Homo sapiens: one gene and its partners. The protein of the gene in region 1 purifies or fractionates together with the protein of each later gene. This does not show direct contact. Each region holds a gene or a part of one and is shown in the gene's direction. Other genes may lie near its edges.

The links.
Region 2: the proteins of MFSD8 (region 1) and CYB5R1 purify together in Homo sapiens (affinity purification with mass spectrometry; 3 studies listed by BioGRID and IntAct, with this or other methods). This does not show direct contact.
Region 3: the proteins of MFSD8 (region 1) and FAM241A purify together in Homo sapiens (affinity purification with mass spectrometry; 2 studies listed by BioGRID and IntAct, with this or other methods). This does not show direct contact.

The regions. Positions count from the first base shown.
Region 1 is NC_000004.12:127,955,169-127,962,197, reverse strand, and holds part of MFSD8 (major facilitator superfamily domain-containing protein 8), read left to right. Parts: intron 1-4,605; coding exon 4,606-4,697; intron 4,698-7,029. UniProt on the Homo sapiens protein: Outward-rectifying chloride channel involved in endolysosomal chloride homeostasis, membrane fusion and function. Conducts chloride currents up to hundreds of picoamperes.
Region 2 is NC_000001.11:202,964,253-202,972,150, reverse strand, and holds the start of CYB5R1 (NADH-cytochrome b5 reductase 1), read left to right. Parts: upstream 1-4,893; 5' UTR 4,894-4,945; coding exon 4,946-4,960; intron 4,961-5,252; coding exon 5,253-5,402; intron 5,403-5,550; coding exon 5,551-5,623; intron 5,624-6,157; coding exon 6,158-6,264; intron 6,265-6,650; coding exon 6,651-6,780; intron 6,781-7,455; coding exon 7,456-7,539; intron 7,540-7,898. UniProt on the Homo sapiens protein: NADH-cytochrome b5 reductases are involved in desaturation and elongation of fatty acids, cholesterol biosynthesis, drug metabolism, and, in erythrocyte, methemoglobin reduction.
Region 3 is NC_000004.12:112,190,430-112,195,761, forward strand, and holds the end of FAM241A (uncharacterized protein FAM241A), read left to right. Parts: 3' UTR 1-4,827; downstream 4,828-5,332.

The DNA.
Region 1 (7,029 bases):
CAAATGTCTCAATAGGCTCTGAGGCCCGTTGCTATACTTTTTAAGTACTTACGTCTGCTTTTTAGTTTTTCTGACAGACTGTTTTCCTCGCAGACTGTTCTGCATCATGTTTTTGAAATCTGGCAGCAACAGTTGTTTTATTGTTGTTGCTGTCACCATACTCTTTCCACCAGCTTTAATTTGGGGCTTCTTGTTTGTTATAGCTTTGATAACCCTGGATCTATGCTTAATGTAACTGTGTGTCATTACAACCTGGTAGTTCTGACTGAGAGCTAAATGTCTTTCCTACTAGTTAAGTGCATAAGCTTGAGTGCGTGGACTTCATGACATTTGGTTTTCTCAGAACTCAGAAATTCTTTTTTTTTTTTTTTTTTTTTGAGACGGAGTCTCGCTCTGTCACCCAGGCTGGAGTGCAGTGGCGCAATCTCGGCTCACTGCAAGCTCCGCCTCCCGGGTTCACGCCATTCTTCTGCCTCAGCCTCCCGAGTAGAGTAGCTGGGACTACAGGCGCCCGTCACCACGCCGGGCTAATTTTTTTTGTATTTTTAGTAGAGACGGGGTTTCACCGTGTTAGCCAGGATGGTCTCGATCTCCTGACCTCGTGATCCGCCCGCCTCGGCCTCCCAAAGTGCTGGGATTACAGGTGTGAGCCACCGTGCCCGGCCTCAGAATTCTTTTTGCTTCGTCCTGGTTTTTAGCTATTTTCCAGATAATTGCAGGATCCCTGAGTTATGTTTAAATGTGGTCTTCTGGTACATTCTGTCACCTTGTACAAAAGAGAATTTTTTTTCATACTCTTAGCTTTGATTTCATCAAAGTGATTGATGCTCATTAGGATCTGTCCAGATTTAGGTGTTCCTGCCAATAATCAATACCTCTGATTGAGGTTCTAGATTTAGCATTTTAAAAACAAAAAGGGAGTATTTTGAAAATAATAAGTATATGTCTTTAAAAACAAGTATATTCCCTAGTAAAGTGAACCTATGTACAACTAGTTGGCAGGACCTGTTCACTTTGAATATATTGCACAAACATGTCTAGGTCACCACCAACTTTTCCTCACTAACAAGGTTGATTATTATTTGCTGGTCTGGTGGAGCTGGCCTCTTGAATCCTCAGTGCTCCCCACTGACCCCCTCTATGGAGCTTTATTTAAGACAACAGGGGTTGGAAAACATTTCCTGTAAAGTCCCAGATTGTAAATATTTTAGGCTTGTTTAGGGCAAGGGGAAAAATCAAGGATATTATATAGGTGTTTAGATAACCAGAAAACAAATTCCACAAAATTTTTTAGTAATGACATTTAAAATATAATAATAAGTATAATATAGGTTTGTTAATGAAAGGGATAGAATTTGGTGGGGGAGGGGATGACATTTTCCTTAATTGCACTTCAGAGTTGGTGTTTTCTGTCATCAAACTGATAAATATTCATCTGTAAAAACCGTTTGTAGCTCACGTTACTGATCCAAGTTACAAATGATTTCAAAATTTTTTTGCAACCTTAGCCTAGTCTCTGTAAAATTTGTATTATTAGGGCATCTGTCCTTATAGGGCATATCTTTATAGAATATTTTCAGTTTATTTCTGTAACTGTTATACCACTACACTGTTCTGTCACTGAGCACACACTTCTTTCTTTTCTCTCTCTTATTTATTTATTTATTTTTTTGAGACAGACTGTCTGTTGCCCAGGCTGGAGTGCAGTGGCACAATCTCTGCTCACTGCAACCTCTGCCTCCCAGGTTCAAGTGATTCTCCTGCCTCAGCCTCCTAAGTAGCTGGGGCTACAGGCATCCACCACCACGCCTGGCTAATTTTTGTATTTTTAGTAGAGACAGGGTTTCACCATGTTGGCCAGGCTGATCTTGAACTCCTGACCTCAAGCAGTCTGCCCGGCTTTGGCCTCCCAAAGTGCTGGGATTACAGGCATGAGCCACTGCGCCTGGCCGTTGTTAAATTTTATCTAACTCATTTTGCTGATCAGTTCACTCCACTATATTGTGTATTCCTTTTAGTTTTTAAGTCACAAGTTTGACAAGCATGCTATCATTTGGAGTATTTCAGTTTGTAATAGAAATGTTGAACAGGATAAAACTGTAGTACTACAGTTTTACTGGAAGGAAAATCTCAAATGGGGAACTAATGCCAGAATGCAGCAGTGATTATAGAAAGGAATTTTAAAAGTTAAGCAAATCATCTTAGAAATGCAGCATTCCTTTTTGTACCCGGTCATACAAGAAAGAAGCCTCTGGAAATTCAATCAGATATGTGACATATTTGTCTGAATCATCAAAGCTAAGAAAATGTAATAAATATGGTCACTTGATTGAAGGACAGTTGCATTCTCCTATATTTCTACTGTCTCCAACAAGGTAGAAAGATAATTTTTTTCATTGAAGTTATACTTTTTTAATTAAAAAAGGAAAAAGTAAATCTTTTTATTTTGAAAAATGTTAAATCTATAGAAAAGATGAAAAAATCACGAACACCTGTATATCCTGTCACTAACTGTTAGCCTTTTCCACACTGCCGAAATCTTTCGGCAGGTACATACACACCCACACGCACCTCTTTTGCCAAACTACCCAAAAGTAGGTTGCAGACATTGTGATACTTTGTCCCAAGTACTTAATTGCAGCTTGCACCTCCCAAGAACAAAGAAATTCTTTTACGCAACTCCATCACTGTTACAACTAGAAATACAATATTAATTCAAGAATATCATGCAATACATAGTTAATACTCAAGTTTTTCCAATTGTTCCAAAAATATACCTTATATTCTTTAAAAAAACAAAAATAAAAAAAACCAGGAGCCATATGCAGGAGATAATCAATGTTTATGCATTTGTTGTTAGGTCTTTTTAGACTCCCCTAACCTAAAACTATCCTTTGACCTATCTCTTTCTTGTCACCATTAAAATCTTTGAAGAGTCTAGGTCAGGTTTTCTGCAGAACATCTAATATTCTGGATTTATGGACTGTTTATTTCAAAATAGATCCTGGTCAAACATTTCTGGCAAGAATATCACATGGGTTATGTTGAGAACACCCCACTACATTACATCAAAAGGTACAGGATGCCAGGACATCCCACTACTGGGAATGCCAAACATGACCACTTGTTAAGAGGGTGACTGCTATATCTTTCAATTATAAAGGTTCATGTTCCATTTTGTAATTAGTAAGCAGACACTGGGGTGACATTTGAGGGCCTTTGACTATCCTCTCCTTAACAATCTTCCAGTCAGTTGTTTTAGCATCCATTGATGATCCTTCCATTATAGCATAGAAAGTGGCCATTAAATTATTATTTTCTAATTTTATCCTTTCAATATTTAATAATTGTCATTTGTCATTAAAAGAAGAAAGATTTTGTCTGAGCTCTAAATCAGTCACTCAAACAATTTTATTATTTTTTTAGAATCAAATAATTTACTTCTTGATTCCCTAACTTAGATATATCTGGTTTTTTATTCAAATTCTAGTATATTGATTTCAAAGTATGGGCATCTAGGGTTCTGGTATTTTTCTCAGGTAAGCTACATTATTTTTATTTTTTTCTTATCTCCTTTGACTCAGAAGAGGTTTGTTTATATGGAATGACATATATAGTGTTAAACACTTTAAATATATTAGGAACTAATATGTTTGGCATATAATACATCTAAAAACATTGTTTCTCTTCTTCCTTTCCTCTTTACCACTCCCAACCATATCACGTTTGAAAAAAAAAAGTTTCTTTTTTGAAGACTAATTTGACAGTTCTAAGGCTTATTTTTAAGAAATTAATCTTGGAACATAAGAAGGCATTTTGTCTGTTCTGCATGTCTTGATTATTTGAAAAGATAATGCTCACGTTAAGGTGAACTTGTTAACTCTTTCTATTGTGTGTGTGAAAATGTAATGAGTATATAGACTCATGTGTCACCTAATGGAGGTAAGATATCTACTTAGTATACATGCCTTTGGTCCAGATCAGACGCTTATCCAAAAGATCACTTAAGTCTGGGGAGTCATGGTCTCTCTTTGGTCTGCTGATAAAATTTATCTGGTAACCCATTTAGGAGGTCCCAGGGCTGAAAATGTCTTAGGTTACGTTAAACCTTCCTGGTATCATTCCTGTTTTCTGAAGTAGGAAGCCAAAAGAGCTTCCTGCAGCAATTTAATTTGCTGTCATCAAGTAGAGCATGTTATAATGATGACAGTTATTATTTTTTAGTACTTAGTAGCTACGGGGGATCTAGTTGTAGCTAGTTTATTTGATTTATCTTGACGTAATTTATTCATTTTTACAAATTGCAACACTCTTGATTAATAAATCTGTGCATGTCAATGGTAGCAAAATAATTGCCTTGCAAAAAGTTTCCTCTTTTAAAACTATACTGTTTCCCAAATTTCTGTATACAATAATGCATATATACAATCCATGGAAATTCAAAAAAATAATGCTTATTCATAGATAAATTAGTGTAGCAGAATCAATATTGGTAAATTCTACCTCTATCACATCATTTTCATAACTAGAGAATAAAACTGTTGACACTTAAGATCCACATGTAATGAGATAAATTTATACTACTTTTTTCTTCTTTACACCTAGAGAATGGGACATTTTAGAGACTGAAGAGCATTATAAGAGCCGATGGAGATCTATTAGGATTTTATATCTTACTATGTTTCTCAGCAGTGTAGGTAAGTATTAGAAATACATAATTTTAACAATTCAGATCAGATGTCATATTTTAACTTCATTTACTTCATTTACTTTCATTGCCTCTGAAATTATCTTTATTGTGCTAAAAAATACGTGACATAAATTTACCGTGTTACCATATCTAAGTTCAATAGCCTTAAGTATATCCACATTGTTGTGCAACCAATCCCTAGAACATTTTCATCTTGCAAAAGAGAAACTCTATACCCATTAAACAACTCCCTATTTTCCCATCCCCCAAGCCCTAGCAAACTTTGTTTCTTGGAATTTGACTATTCTAGATAGCTCATATAAATGGAATTATATAGTATTTTTTTTCTTGTGATGAGATTATTTCACTCAATGTCCTCAAGTTGGTTCATGTTGCACTTGTGATAATTTCCTTTTATTTAAAGGCTGTATAGTTCATTATATGTATTCTAGGGTAGGAGAAATTTTTCCTCTATTCTCCTATGTGCTTAAGGCTTGTGAATTAAGCTGACAAAAGAAAGACTAACAGTTAAAAAAGTATACAAATTTATTTGATGTTAATATTTTTTAATGAAAAGAAACAAATAACATTAAGGAATGTACATACAAACGAAACTAGACAACTACTAAGAGTCCCTAACACTTTCATGTACTCACAAAAGTATTTCATCTTTTTTTTTTTTTTTTTTTGAGACGGAGTTTCACTCTTGTTGCCCAGGCTGGAGTGCAATGGCACGATCTCAGCTCACTGCAACCTCCACCTCCCAGATTCAAGCGATTCGCCTGCCCCAGCCTGCCAAGTATCTGGGATTACAGGCATGTGCCACCACCCCTGGCTAATTTTGTATTTTTAGTAGAGACGGGATGTCTCCATGTTGGTCAGGCTGGTCTCGAACTCCCAACCTCAGGTGATCTGCCCACCTCGGCCTCCCAAAGTGCTGCGATTACAGGCGTGAGTCACCGCCCCCAGTTAAAAATATTTCATCTTTTTTCTTTTTTTTTTTTTTTCAAGACGGAGTTTCGCACTGTCGCCCAGGCTGGAGTGCAGTGGCGCGATCTCGGCTCACTGCAAGCTCCGCCTCCCAGGTTCGCGTGATTCTCCTGCCTCAGCCTCCCGAGTAGCTGGGACTACAGACACCCGCCACCACGCTAATTGTTTTATATTTTTAGTAGAGACGGGGTTTCACTGTGTTAGCCGGGATGTCTTGATCTCCTGACCTCGTGATCTGCCAGACTCAGCCTCCCAAAGTGCTGGAATTACAGGCCTGAGCCACCGCACCTGGCCAAAAGTATTTCATCTTTACAGCCATCAGTCAATTATTTGTTCTGCTACTTCTTGAAGATGTGCAAAATTTCTTTTTAAAAAAATTTTATTATTTATTATTATTTATTCATTTTTTGAGGTGGAGTCGCCCAGGCTGGAGTGCAGTGGTGTGATCTCGGCTTACTGCAACCTCTGCCTCCTGGGTTCGAGCAATTCTTGTGCCTTAGCCTCCCGAGTAGCTGGGACTACAGGCGCACGCTATCACGCCCAGCTAATTTTTTTGTATCTTTAGTAGAGATGGGGTTTCACGGCGTTAGCCAGGATGGTCTCGATCTCGTGACCTCATGATCTGCCCGCCTCAGCCTCCCAAAGTGCTGGGATTACAGGCGTGAGCCACCCCGCCTGGCCAGTGCAAAATTTCTTAAGTTTAAATATACAGTCTTAATTATACCTGTGTCTTAATGTCCCAAGACAGATTGTAGGTAACAGAATCTCAATTGTGCCTCAAAGAATTAACAACAAAACAAAATTCAATCTATTCTCTGCATTCAGGCAGAAAGGGGGAGAGCAGAGAACCCTTCCTGCATCTGCTATTTCTCGGTTGCCTTCAGTTTGAGATAATTAATATGGCAAAACAGCAGATTTTTGGAGTAGCATACTCTGATTGCCTTCAGTATATACCACATTTTTTTTTTTTTTTTTTTTGAGACAAAGTCTCGCTCTGTCGTCCAAGCTGGAGTGCAGTGGTGTGATCTTGGCTCACTGAAACCTCCGCCTGCGGGGTTCAAGCAATTCTCTGCCTCAGCCTCCCAGGTAGCTGGGATTACAGTCACCCACCACCATGCCCGGCTAATTTTTGTATTTTTAGTAGAGATGGGGTTTCACCATCTTGGCCAGGCTGGTCTTGAACTCCTGACCTCGTGATCCACCGGCCTCAGCCTCCCAAAGTGCTAGGATTACAGCCTAGCCTGGCCTACCACATTTTGTTTAGCCATTTATCTGTCGATGGACATTTGGGTTGCTTCCACCTCTTGGCTGTTGTGAATAGTGCTGCTGTCAATATGGGTGTGCAAATA
Region 2 (7,898 bases), on another chromosome or scaffold:
TTTGGCAGCTTTTTATATAAAGTTAAATATACACCTTCCATGTGATCCGGAAATCACACTTGTGGATATTTCAGAGAAATAAAAACTAGGTTCACATGGAAATCTGCACATGAATGTTTAAAGCAATTTCAATCATCACCAAAAATTGGAAATAACTCAAATGTCCTTCAGCTGATGAATGGATAAACAAATTATGATACAGCCATACAACAGAATACTACTAGCAATGAAAAGAATGGACTGTAAATACACATGATAACTTGGATGAATCTCAAACTATGCTGAGTGAAAGAAATCCACTCAAAAGCTTACATATTGTATAGACTTTATTTATGTGACATTCATAAAGAGGCAAAAGTGTATTGACAGGGAACACATCAGTGATAACCAGGAGTTAAAGGTAAGGGGAGGATGTGGCCATAAAGGGATAGCATATGGGAGATTTGCAGGGTGATCAAACTGGTCTATTTCCTGATTATAGTGGTGCCACAAATCTATACATATTCTAGAATTCACAGAACTGTATGCCCAAGAGTCTATTTTAATGTATGACAATTACAAATTTAAAATGAGACAGCTGGGGCCAGGCGCAGTGGCTCATGCCTGTAATTCCAGCACTTTGGGAGGCCGAGCCGGGTGGATCACAATGTCAGGAGTTCAAGAACAGTCTGGCCAAGATGGTGAAACCCCTTCTCTACTAAAAATACAAAAATTAGCCAGGCGCCATGGCGGGCGCTGTGGAAGTCGCCTATAATCCCAGCTACTCAGGAGGCTGAGGCAGGAGAATCTCTTGAACCCGGGAGGCAGAGGTTGCAGTGAGCCGAGATCGTGCCACTGCACTCCAGCCTGGGTGACAGAGTGAGACTCCATCTCAAAAAAAAAAAAAAAAAAAAAAGGCCGGGCACGGCGGCTCATCCCTGTAATCCCAGCACTTTGGGAGGCCGAGGAGGATGGATCACAAGGTCAGGAGATTGAGACTATCCTGGCTAACACAGTGAAACCCCGTCTCTACTAAAAATACAAAAAATTAGCCAGGCGTGGTGGCGGGCGCCTGTAGTCCCAGCTACTCGGGAGGCTGAGGCAGGAGAATGGCGTGAACCTGGGAGGTGGAGCTGGTAGTGAGCCAAGATCATGCCACTGCACTCCAGCCTAGGCGACAGAGTGAGACTCCATCTCAAAAAAAAAAAAAAAAAAAAGAGACAGGTGGAACTTTGAACACTGACTAGCTATCTGATGAAACTAAGTAATTGTTGTTAATTATTTTTACATGTGATAATGGTATTATGGTTATTTTTAAGTCCTTAGCTTTTAAAGATACACACTAAAATATTTAAGGACAAAGTTATAAAAAATATGGGATTTGCTTAAAAATAATACTGGAGGAAGGAACGGACTGGGGAAGAAATGAAAGAAAGGTGACCATGATTTAATAATTGTTGAAGAGGGTGATGGGTACGTCGGGCTTTATTATACTGTTCTGTCTACTTTTGTATATGTTTGATAGTTTCCATACTAAAAAGTTCAGCCAGGCACGGTGGCTTACGCCTGTAATCCCAGCACTTTGGGAGGCTGAGGCAGGCGGATCACGAAGTTAGGAGTTTGAGACCAGCCTGGCCAACATGGTGAAACCTCGTCTCTACTAAAAGTACAAAAATTAGCCGGGGATGGTGGCGCATGCCTGTAATCCCAGCTACTCAGGAGGCTGAGGCAGAAGAATCACTTGAACCTGGGAGGCAGAGGTTGCAGTGAGTCGAGATTGCGCCACTGCACTCCAGCCTGGGTGACAGAGCAAGACTCCGTCTCAAAAAAAAAAGAAAAGTTCAAAAAGGGTGTGAGGTTGTTAGTTTTCAACATCAAGCTGCCTGGTATGCAGTCTGAGTTTGCCATTTAGTAGGTGATCTTGGGCAAGTGACTTACTTGTCCTAAACTTCAGTTTCCCCCCACTCCATAAAATGAGACTACTAATGATAATATCTATCTCACAGTTGTTGTCAGGATTAAATGGATGTTGTCAGAATACGTGAAAAGCAATTTACCTAGTTCTTGCTATATTGCACATGCTCAATAAATGTTAATTTTTTTGTCATTATTACATCTCCTGGTCTGATTCCTCCATGCCATCTCCTCAGTATGAGCAAGTCTTCCTCCAAGCTTCTTTCTGGATATCTTATCTAAAAAGGGCCACTGAGTTTTACATCCTAATTCAGAATTATAAAACACAGGTTTGAAATTCTACTTCCCCCTCACACTACATTATATATATATATTTTTTTAAACAGGGTCTTGCTCTATTGCCCAGGCTGGAGTGCAGTGGCGCAATCATGGCTCACTGCAGCGTTGATCTCCCAGGCTCAAGCAATACCCCCACCTCAGCCTCCTTAGTATCTAGGACTACAGGCCAGCGCCATCGCACTTGGCTAATTTTTGTATTTTTGTAAAGACAGGATTTTGCCATGTTGCCCAGGCTGGTCTCAAACTCCTGGGCTCAAGTGATCCATCCAGCCTCCCAAAGTGATGGGATTACAGGCGTGAACCCAGCCTGTTCTATTCTTTATTGTATACCCAGGAGGAAATCCTAAACTTAAAAGATTGGGTTAAATAAAAATTCAGAAATGCCTATCTTTTCCTCCAAACTAGGAGTAATGTAAGATTACCATGAGTCGTGGTGGAGTGGAGTTCAATTCACCACAGAATCTGAGACAGGAAGACCTGCCAGGCCATCAGCCCCTTCCCACCACTCCTGCAGCATTCATTTTCAGGAGCAAAAGAGCCTTCCCACAATTACTGAGTCCAACACTTAGTTTCCAGGATAAGCCCACACCCAACCATTCTGTCCTGTGGTTCCCAGTGATACACTCACACTTGTTAGAATGTGCCACTTTGGGGTTCAGAAAATGCAATCACTGAGAGAAGCCCGAGTTGTAGTTATGCTCTCCTTTCGTTCCATACTTCCCCCTCTCTTGCCACATCTATCCACTAGAGGGAGGAAGGCCTAGAACCTCTTTAGCCAGAGTGGAGCAGTGGCAAGGATCAGTAGTGTGGCTTCTTAACCAAGCCAGCAGTGGGGATGTCAGAAGCACCGGAACATAATCGCCTCATTCTCTCGGAACAGAAAAGAGGAAGGGTCCCTTCCTTCCCCTTTTCAACCCTCTCTGCATGGATTGGCATGTCACCATGATCTGGTGCACTCACTTCCCTCAAGTCAGTGTGCAGGCTGCTTAAAAAATTCAGAGGAACATGTACTGGGGTCTTAGGAACATTTTCAGCCAGTGGAGAGGAAAAGGAAAACTAAGTATCTCTTGGATCATTCACAGAGTTCACCAAATACAACTGAAAACTGGGGGCTCTAATGTCCCTGCTGCCCTGATGGTATTAGTTTAAGATGTTGACACTGACATCTGCAGAGATCTCATCCATCACGGTATATCAAAGAGCAAATGTCATTCTAGTTGAGAAACTCATGTATGAGAAAGAATGGTCATCTTGGGAAATCTGTAGCTCCAGCGGCTCCTGATGTTTTTTCCTGCCTCCTCCTGTCCCATGCTTGTGCCCCAGGCAGAGCTCATTCCTAAAACCATAGCTGACCCTCTGTGCTGTCTTTTAAGTTATAATAGTAGCTGCCAACTGTTGAATATTTTGCTTTATGACAGGCACTACACTAAGCACGTTAACATATCTCACTGAAGCCTCACACCAAAGCTATGAACTAGATACAATCTATCTGTAGATAATAATATATATCCATCTGTAGATATCCATCTTATATCCATCTGTAGATGAAGAAACTCAGGTTGAGTAAGCTATCTAAGGTCACAGAGCCAATAAGTGCTAGAGGCAAGATTCTTATTCTGTACACTCTGCCTCCAAAGCCCACTTCTTTGACCCTAAGGGCACAAGAACCCAAATCAGGATGTGAAGCTTGGTCTTTGAAACCAAAGGAAGCTCCTGAATCATCCTGATAGGCTGACGGCTTGGCGCTGTAAACAAAATCAGTCTTTTGTCAAAAGGAAATGAAGTTGCCATGCCACTGTTCACTCCTGTAAGAGACTCCTCTGGGCTGTTCCATTCTCTTGCTGCAATTCAGCCGGTTGAAAAACTAAGGTGACTGCACAATGATTAACTTCAGGCCCTTCTGCTCTACTTTGAGCCTGTCTCTGGTTCATCGTTACACTCTCCGCTCAGCACCCGCAGACTCAAGAGATTTCCAATCCCCCAATTTAGCGTGGTTCTACCTTAGGCAGAACTCCCATCCAGTTCGGATATAAGCGGGTCGAAGTGGCAGGGACCACCTCGCTGGGAGGAGAGGCTGGAGCTGCGGTCTTAAAAGATCTTGGGGCCGGGCGCGATGGCTCACGCCTGTAATCCCAACACGTTGGGAGGCCGAAGCGGGTAGATTATTTGAGCCCTGGAGCTCGAGACCACCCTGACCAACACGGTGAAACCCAGTCTGTACTAAAAATACAAAAAAAAAATTAGCCGGGCGTGGTGGCGCACGCCAGTAGTCCCAGATACTCGGGAGGCGGAGCCAGGAGAACCACTTGAAACTGGGAGGCGGAGGTTGCAGTAACCGAGATCGCGCCACTGCACTCCAGCCTGGGCGACAGAGCGAGGCTCCGACTCAAAAAAAAAAAAAAAAGTATTGAATAAGCACCGGAGACCCTGAGCCACCGAGTAGCGGAGGGAAAGGGTGGCGCGCAGAGGGGCCCAGCCCCGCCTCTGCCGGACCCCGCCCCCAAAAGGCCCCGCCGCCGCCACCTCCTGCTAGGCCCCGCCCCCGACAGACACCCCCCCCCCCCCCCGCCAGGCCCCGCCTCCTGCCCCCCCAGCCGCGAGGTCCTGCCTCCTGCCCGGCCCCGCCCCCGGCCTGCCCCGCCCTCCGACCCGCCCCGCGGCGCATTGTGGGATCTGTCGGCTTGTCAGGTGGTGGAGGAAAAGGCGCTCCGTCATGGGGATCCAGACGGTAAGACCCTCATTCAGTATCCTCCACTGGGGGACCCCTCCCCATCTGGTTCTGGCCACTCAGCTCCGGACCAGGGGCTGTCGCTGCCGACCCCGCCCCGCAGGGCTCTGGGCCCACCGTGGATGCTGGGGTCCCGATCCCGCACATCCGGGCTCGGGACTCCGCCAGGTTACCCCTCTGCCCTTGGCATGCCTCCGCGCTGGAGCTCGGGATCGCCACCCCTGGGACGGTCACCACCCAAGCCCCGGGCTCTTACCCAGCCTGGCGGTCACGCTGCCTCCTCTACCCACAGAGCCCCGTCCTGCTGGCCTCCCTGGGGGTGGGGCTGGTCACTCTGCTCGGCCTGGCTGTGGGCTCCTACTTGGTTCGGAGGTCCCGCCGGCCTCAGGTCACTCTCCTGGACCCCAATGAAAAGTACCTGCTACGACTGCTAGACAAGACGGTAAGTTGGGGAAGAAAGGGCCAGGGTGAAGGAGGGGACCAGAGTGCTCCTGGCATGGAGGGTACAGCACCCACGGTGGTTGGGATGTCCAAGGGACGTGGCAGCGCCAGGCGCGCTTGGTGAAACACTTGTGTCCTCCACCCTCCAGACTGTGAGCCACAACACCAAGAGGTTCCGCTTTGCCCTGCCCACCGCCCACCACACTCTGGGGCTGCCTGTGGGTAAGGAAAGTGTGGAATGGGCTCCTTTCCCTGGTATCCTCAGAAGGTGACTCCCCTCCTGGGATCTCATGAAACACGCTGCTTCAACCGGTTTGCTCCACACACCATTCCCCTTCCCCCACTTGGCTCTGCATCCTCCAAGCTGTGAGGTGCCACTGGGCCCCTCTAGAGTGTGGCTTCCATGACCCCCATCCAGCTTTAACACTCAACAGTCTTGCCTCTTCCCTGCAGGATTTGCTAATTACTCCCTCTGAGCAAGCACTACTAACTTTTTCCCATTGCCCAGACCCTTTTGGCTCATCTGTCAAGGTCCTGGCAGTAACTGGCAGGAAACGCTGGAAATAAGTGTTTCCTCAACTGGGCGCTTATAAGAGATCCAACTGAGGGCTCAATGGGGCAAATCTTCCCTGCCTTGTAGCTCCTTGGGACCACAGCAGGAAGCAAGACATCTTGTTCTCTCAAATCTCTTTGAGTATTTTGAGGGATGCAGCACATCACAGACAACCCTTATGTAGCTCTCTGCACGGTCCCCAGGCAAACATATCTACCTCTCCACCCGAATTGATGGCAGCCTGGTCATCAGGCCATACACTCCTGTCACCAGTGATGAGGATCAAGGCTATGTGGATCTTGTCATCAAGGTAAGGGGCTAGGAAGGGACCCAGGGGCTGCTTACCCATTCTTTCTGGGATTTGTAGAAATTTCTAAGATTTGCCTGACAGCAGGAAATGGTATGTACTCTGTGGATGTGAAGAAAGTATGAGCTACTCAGGAGACTGAGGCAGGAGACTCACTTGAACCCAGGAGGCGGAGGTTGCAGTGAGCCAAGATTGCGCCACTGCACTCAAGCCTGGGCAGCAAGAGCAAAACTCTGACTCAAAAAAAAAAAAGAAAGAAAGAAAGTATGTAGACGGGGAAAAGATAGCACATATCTGATCCCTGCCCCAGCCTCAGGGAGGTTTAGTCAACATGGGGCTCAGAAACCAGTGACATTCCAAATAAGGTATTTTTCTCTCTGTCTTGTAAGGTCTACCTGAAGGGTGTGCACCCCAAATTTCCTGAGGGAGGGAAGATGTCTCAGTACCTGGATAGCCTGAAGGTTGGGGATGTGGTGGAGTTTCGGGGGCCAAGCGGGTTGCTCACTTACACTGGAAAAGGTAATGACCTGTCTTCTCCTTGAGCCTGTCTCCCACTTTATCAGTTCCCATAGTCCTCTTGGCACAGTATGGCTGTGTGTACACATGTGTATGCACGTAAGGGCCAGGGCCGCCCTTCCTTCTAAACATAGCGCTGATACAATAGAAAGGCATGTTTCTCAGCCCCATTTGCCACAGGAAGCAGTTCCTCCTCCACTTGAATTCCCTAGCCATGGCAGCTGTGGAGATTACTAAAGCAAACATGTGCCCCTCTTCCCCACCTTCAAAAATTTGCCCCCCTGGGTGAGCTGTGGAGTGAGCCAGAGATAGCTTTCAGCCCTTCCCATGGGAACAGCTGGGTGCATTAGCAAGTCCCTGGAGCTGCTGTGTGCCACTTGGGAAAATAGATTCACACCTGGCTCTGTGCCTGTCTCCTTCACCAGGGAGTGACACTTTGCCAGAAGCAGCTGATACATTGTGTGGCGCTGAACTGACTCACAGATAGCCCTGGCCCCATTGTCCCTCAACTATATTATTGTCAGGGCTGGCTCAACTCAAGCTTCCACCCAAGCTCCAGGATCAGATGTCATAGCAGCTGCTCAACTGGCCTCAGGCATATTTTCAACTCTGCATTTGTTTTCTAAGTTCGCTGTATTGACTTTATTCTTCCACTGCTCTCTTCACCTGACCTCTCAGGGCATTTTAACATTCAGCCCAACAAGAAATCTCCACCAGAACCCCGAGTGGCGAAGAAACTGGGAATGATTGCCGGCGGGACAGGTGCATTACACTGAGGGCCTTTCTCTCCCACCATTGTTGACTGTTGCCATGCAAATTCCTAGGTGACCCTCTGAAGACTGGTAACCATAGCCAAGCTGTTGTTCATCAGGGGATTTCCAGCAATGCTTAGAACTCCCTAGTATCTGAAAAACAAAATCATAAGCAGGTAGAAACCAAAAAAAATTTTAACTGATGGAATTAGAGAAACAAATTAAATGAGCTTTCCTCATTTTGAATGGATCTAATAGTTTTAGGTGAGAGAAGAGAGAAGCAGCTAGGAATGACTAGCTAGGAAGAAAGAAAATTAGCATTGGACACTACTGTGCATTAGACACTGTGTAGTCTAATACACTACTATA
Region 3 (5,332 bases), about 16 Mb from region 1:
TGGGACAGCACTTTGGGAGGCCGAAGCGGGCGGATCACCTGAGGTCGGGAGTTCGAGACTAGCCTGACCAACATGGAGAAACCCCGTCTCTACTAAAAAAAAAAAAAAAAAAATACAAAATTAGCTAGGCGTGGTGGTGCATGCCTGTAATCTCAGCTACTCAGGAGGCTGAGGCAGGAGAGTCGCTTGAACCCGGAAGCCAAAGTTTGCAGTGAGCCAAGATTATGCCCTTGCACTCAATCTGGGCAACAAGAGCGAAACTCCATCTCAAAAAAAAAAAAAAAAGACTTTCATGCCTGGTAATAGAGTTGGCCGAGAAGAATATAAACTTATTTACAAACTATGACTTCAGGAGTATTGGTGGATTAGAGGTCATTTGCAACTCTTGTCTCTCTGCCCAACATTTAATTTTTGGTATGCGTTGGAGTTCAGTCCAACAGCCTGCTCTCACATCACTCCACACAGCAGCTCGGCAATGTCACCACTCCCGTGGCTGCAGAGTTACCATTTGCATCCTAACAGCTCCCCAATTTGCATCTCTAGATCAGAGCACTGTACAGAATTTAAGACTCCTACATTCAATTGCTTGCCCAATATTTATTTGCATTTGGTTATCCCATAGTACCCAAGACTCAGCGTGTCCAAACGAGCGCAGCATCCTTCTCCCAAATCTTTAATTCCTGTTTCCCATCTCAGCAAATGACACAATCCTTTCCCTAACTGCTCAAGCAGGAGTTGTAGATGACATCCTTGACTCTGTGTTTCCTACACTACCTACATGTAACCAAGTACCAAATCTATTTTACTTCTAAAAATATAATCTTTCTACTTCTATTCATTCCTAGCATCACTGAGTCCATTCTGCCATCATCTCACCTGGCATGCTGAGAATCCTGATTAGCCTCCCTACCTTCATTTTCCACTTTGTAGTTACAGATCTTTCTAAAGAATTATTCTAACATGATTCTGATATCCTTGACCTAAATCTTTTCAATGGCTTTCTGTTTTCGTTATGATAAAGTCCTTATGCCTTAATATGTTTTACAAGGCTCTTCATGTACTGGTTCTTGCGTACCTCATCTCTCTATACTGCCACTCTCCATTTCCAGGATTCAACTATACTGAACTTTTCCCCAGTTCCTTTAAAGAGACATGCTTTCTTACTTCCAGAACTTTGTACATGCTTTACTTCTTTAACTGCTCCCTACCAGACTGACCAATATCTACACAGCCTTAAGACCTCAAGTGAGACATCATGTCCTCCAGGGAAACTTCTCTGACTCCTTTAAATCCAGTTTTGGTTCTTCATTATGGCTTGGTTTCTCAAGTGCAACCCTGTGCTTTCCAGGTCAGCACTTCTCATGCTATATTGCAATAGCTTATTTGTCAGCTGCTGCTTTAATAATTGATTAATTATTAAATTAATCAATAGGCTTCACAAGGGAAGAGAACATGTCTGTCATTCTATAATTGCATTGCTAGTGCCTAACACAATGCCTGGGACATAATAGGCCATCAAAATATTTATCAAGTAAACCCACTTCATCTACTCATGGTCTTCATATAGACCACTAACAAAAAAGATCTAGAGCTGGTTGTACTTTGAAGTTCTTTGACTCCAAAAGTATACTTACTGTGCACAAAGAGCATGGGTTGATGTATACATTATAATTTATAAAGCTATTCACTTCTGATAAAAGAATACTGCTGTTATTTGGATACATACACAGTATTTCCACTATACACTTGTGTATTTTAGGAGAAAATGTATTTTCAATGTTTGGTTGATTCACTATTTTTCCAAAAAGGATATTTTACAATACCTACGGTCACTGATACTACCAGAACTTCACTTTTGTTCAGTATTTTTTAATAGACCTTTATTTACTACATTTTAATTTTTTAATTTTTTTCTTTTATTTTATTGTTATTATACTTTAAGTTTTAGGGTACATGTGTACAATGTGCAGGTTAGTTACATATGTATACATGTGCCATGCTAGTGTGCTGCACCCATTAACTCGTCATTTAGCATTAGGTATATCTCCTAATGCTATCCCTCTCCCCTCCCCCCACCCCACAACAGTCCCCAGAGTGTGATGTTCCCCTTCCTGTGTCCATGTGTTCTCATTGTTCAATTCCCATCTATGAGTGAGAACATGTGGTGTTTGGTTTTTTGTCCTTGCGATAGTTTACTGAGAATGATGATTTCCAATTTCATCCATGTCCCTACAAAGGACATGAACTCATCCTTTTTTATGGCTGCATAGTATTCCATGGTGTATATGTGCCACATTTTCTTAATCCAGTCTATCATTGTTGGACATTTGGGTTGGTTCCAAGTCTTTGCTATTGTGAATAGTGCTGCAATAAACATACGTGTGCATGTGTCTTTATAGCAGCATGATTTATAGTCCTTTGAGTATATACCCAGTAATGGGATGGCTGGGTCAAATGGTATTTCTAGTTCTAGATTCCTGAGGAATCGCCACACTGACTTCCACAATGGTTGAACTAGTTTACAGTCCCACCAACAGTGTAAAAGTGTTCCTATTTCTCCACATCCTCTCCAGCACCTGTTGTTTCCTGACTTTTTAATGATCGCCATTCTAACTGGTGTGAGATGGTATCTCATTGTGGTTTTGATTTGCATTTCTCTGATGGTCAGTGATGGTGAGCATTTTTTCATGTGTTTTTTGGCTGCATAAATGTCTTCTTTTGAGAAGTGTCTGTTCATGTCCTTTGCCCACTTTTTGATGGGGTTGTTTGTTTTTTTCTTGTAAATTTGTTTGAGTTCATTGTAGATTCTGGATATTAGCCCTTTGTCAGATGAGTAGGTTGCGAAAATTTTCTGCCATTTTGTAAGTTGCCTGTTCACTCTGATGGTAGTTTCTTTTGCTGTGCAGAAGCTCTTGAGTTGAATTAGATCCCATTTGTCAATTTTGTCTTTTGTTGCCATTGCTTTTGGTGTTTTAGACATGAAGTCCTTGCCCATGCCTATGTCCTGAATGGTAATGCCTAGGTTTTCTTCTAGGGTTTTTATGGTTTTAGGTCTGACATGTAAGTCTTTAATCCATCTTGAAATAATTTTTGTATAAGGTGTAAGGAAGGGATCCAGTTTCAGCTTTCTACATATGGCTAGCCAGTTTTCCCAGCACCATTTATTCAATAGGGAATCCTTTCCCCATTGCTTGTTTTTCTCAGGTTTGTCAAAGATCAGATAGCTGTAGACATGCGGCGTTATTTCTGAGGGCTCTTTTGTGTTCCATTGATCTATATCTCTGTTTTGGTACCAGTACCATGCTGTTTTGGTTATTGTAGCCTTGTAGTATAGTTTGAAGTCAGGTAGCATGATGCCTCCAGCTTTGTTCTTTTGGCTTAGGATTGACTTGGCGATGCGGGCTCTTTTTTGGTTCCATATGAACTTTAAAGTAGTTTTTTCCAATTCTGTGAAGAAAGTCATTGGTAGCTTGATGGGGATGGCATTGAATCTATAAATTACCTTGGGCAGTATGGCCATTTTCACGATATTGATTCTTCCTATCCATGAGCATGGAATGTTCTTCCATTTGTTTGTATCCTCTTTTATTTCATTGAGCAGTGGTTTGTAGTTCTCCTTGAAGAGGTCCTTCACGTCCCTTGTAAGTTGGATTCCTAGGTATTTTGTTCTCTTTGAAGCAATTGTGAATGGGAGTTCACTCATGATTTGGCTCTCTGTTTGTCTGTTATTGGTGTATAAGAATGCTTGTGATTTTTGTACATTGATTTTGTATCCTGAGACTTTGCTGAAGTTGCTTATCAGCTTAAGGAGATTTTGGGCTGAGACAATGGGGTTTTCTAGATATACAATCATGTCATCTGCAAACAGGGACAATTTGACTTCCTCTTTTCCTAATTGAATACTTTTTACTTCCTTCTCCTGCCTAATTGCCCTGGCCAGAACTTCCAACACTATGTTGAATAGGAGTGGTGAGAGAGGGCATCCCTGTCTTGTGCCAGTTTTCAAAGGGAATGCTTCCAGTTTTTGCCCATTCAGTATGATATTGGCTGTGGGTTTGTCATAGATAGCTCTTATTATTTTGAGATACGTCCCATCAATACCTGATTTATTGAGAGTTTTTAGCATGAAGCGTTGTTGAATTTTGTCAAAGGCCTTTTCTGCATCTATTGAGATAATCATGTGGTTTTTGTCTTTGGTTCTGTTTATATGCTGGATTACATTGATTGATTTGCGTATATTGAACCAGCCTTGCATCCCAGGGATGAAGCCCACTTGAACATGGTGGATAAGCTTTTTGATGTGCTGCTGGATTTGGTTCGCCAGTATTTTATTGAGGATTTTTATTTTTAATTTTTTGTTTTGTTTTTTGAGGCGAAGTCTCGCTCCGTTGCCAGGCTGGAGGGCAGTGGCACGATCTCGACTCACTGCAACCTCCGCCTCCCAGGTTTAAGCAATTCTCCTGTCTCAGCAGGAGTGGTTGGGATTACAGGCACATGCTGGCATGCCTGTATTTTTGTATTTTTAGTAGAGACGGGGTTTCACCATGTTGGCCAGGATGGTCTCAATCGCTTGACCTCATGATCCGCCCGCCTCGGCCTCCCAAAGTGCTGGGATTACAGGCGTGAGCCACTGCACCCGGCCTACATTTTAATTTTTACAAAAAACTCTTAAACTTTTTTGTGAGCAGAAATTCTCAAGTATCGAAGCGTGGTGTTTTAGGCTCCAGAAGAAATCCACTATTACAGTGTCCTAGTAGCCCAGACATATGTGTTAAATGACATGTATATACTTTGTTATTCTTTCTAATAAATAATACTCTTTTACAACTCTGCCTTCTGAGTGTCTCTTCCAACTCCCTATCACATGTTCTACTTACCAGTTAATGGCTGCCACATCCAGTTTGGAATGACCAAAGCAACAACAAACATCTGAGGGTGAACAGAGGTTATCTTTTTTCCTTATCCCTATTGCTGGAACAGAATGCCAAGACATGACATGTATGGCTTCCCAGGAAAGGAGAAGTGGGAAAACCAAGATCAAGACCAACCTCTGCCTCCAAGCTGTATTTTTCTTCTTTCTGTTGGCTTGACTATTGTGTAAGTTAGAATTATCGAATAAACTCTGCAGAAGCCTGCTAGCGATCCAAAACATATTTATGTTTATTAAATTTGAGTTATCTTTTCAGCAATTAAAGTTTATCATTTAATCTTTAATTGACTTAGTTGGAAATTTCTTTGCCAGTTTTCCAAAACACCATAGAATACAGTAACTTGTATCATAAAACCATGGACCTTTTTTGCTATTGGTTTCCCCCAGTATTATAAGAGGCTA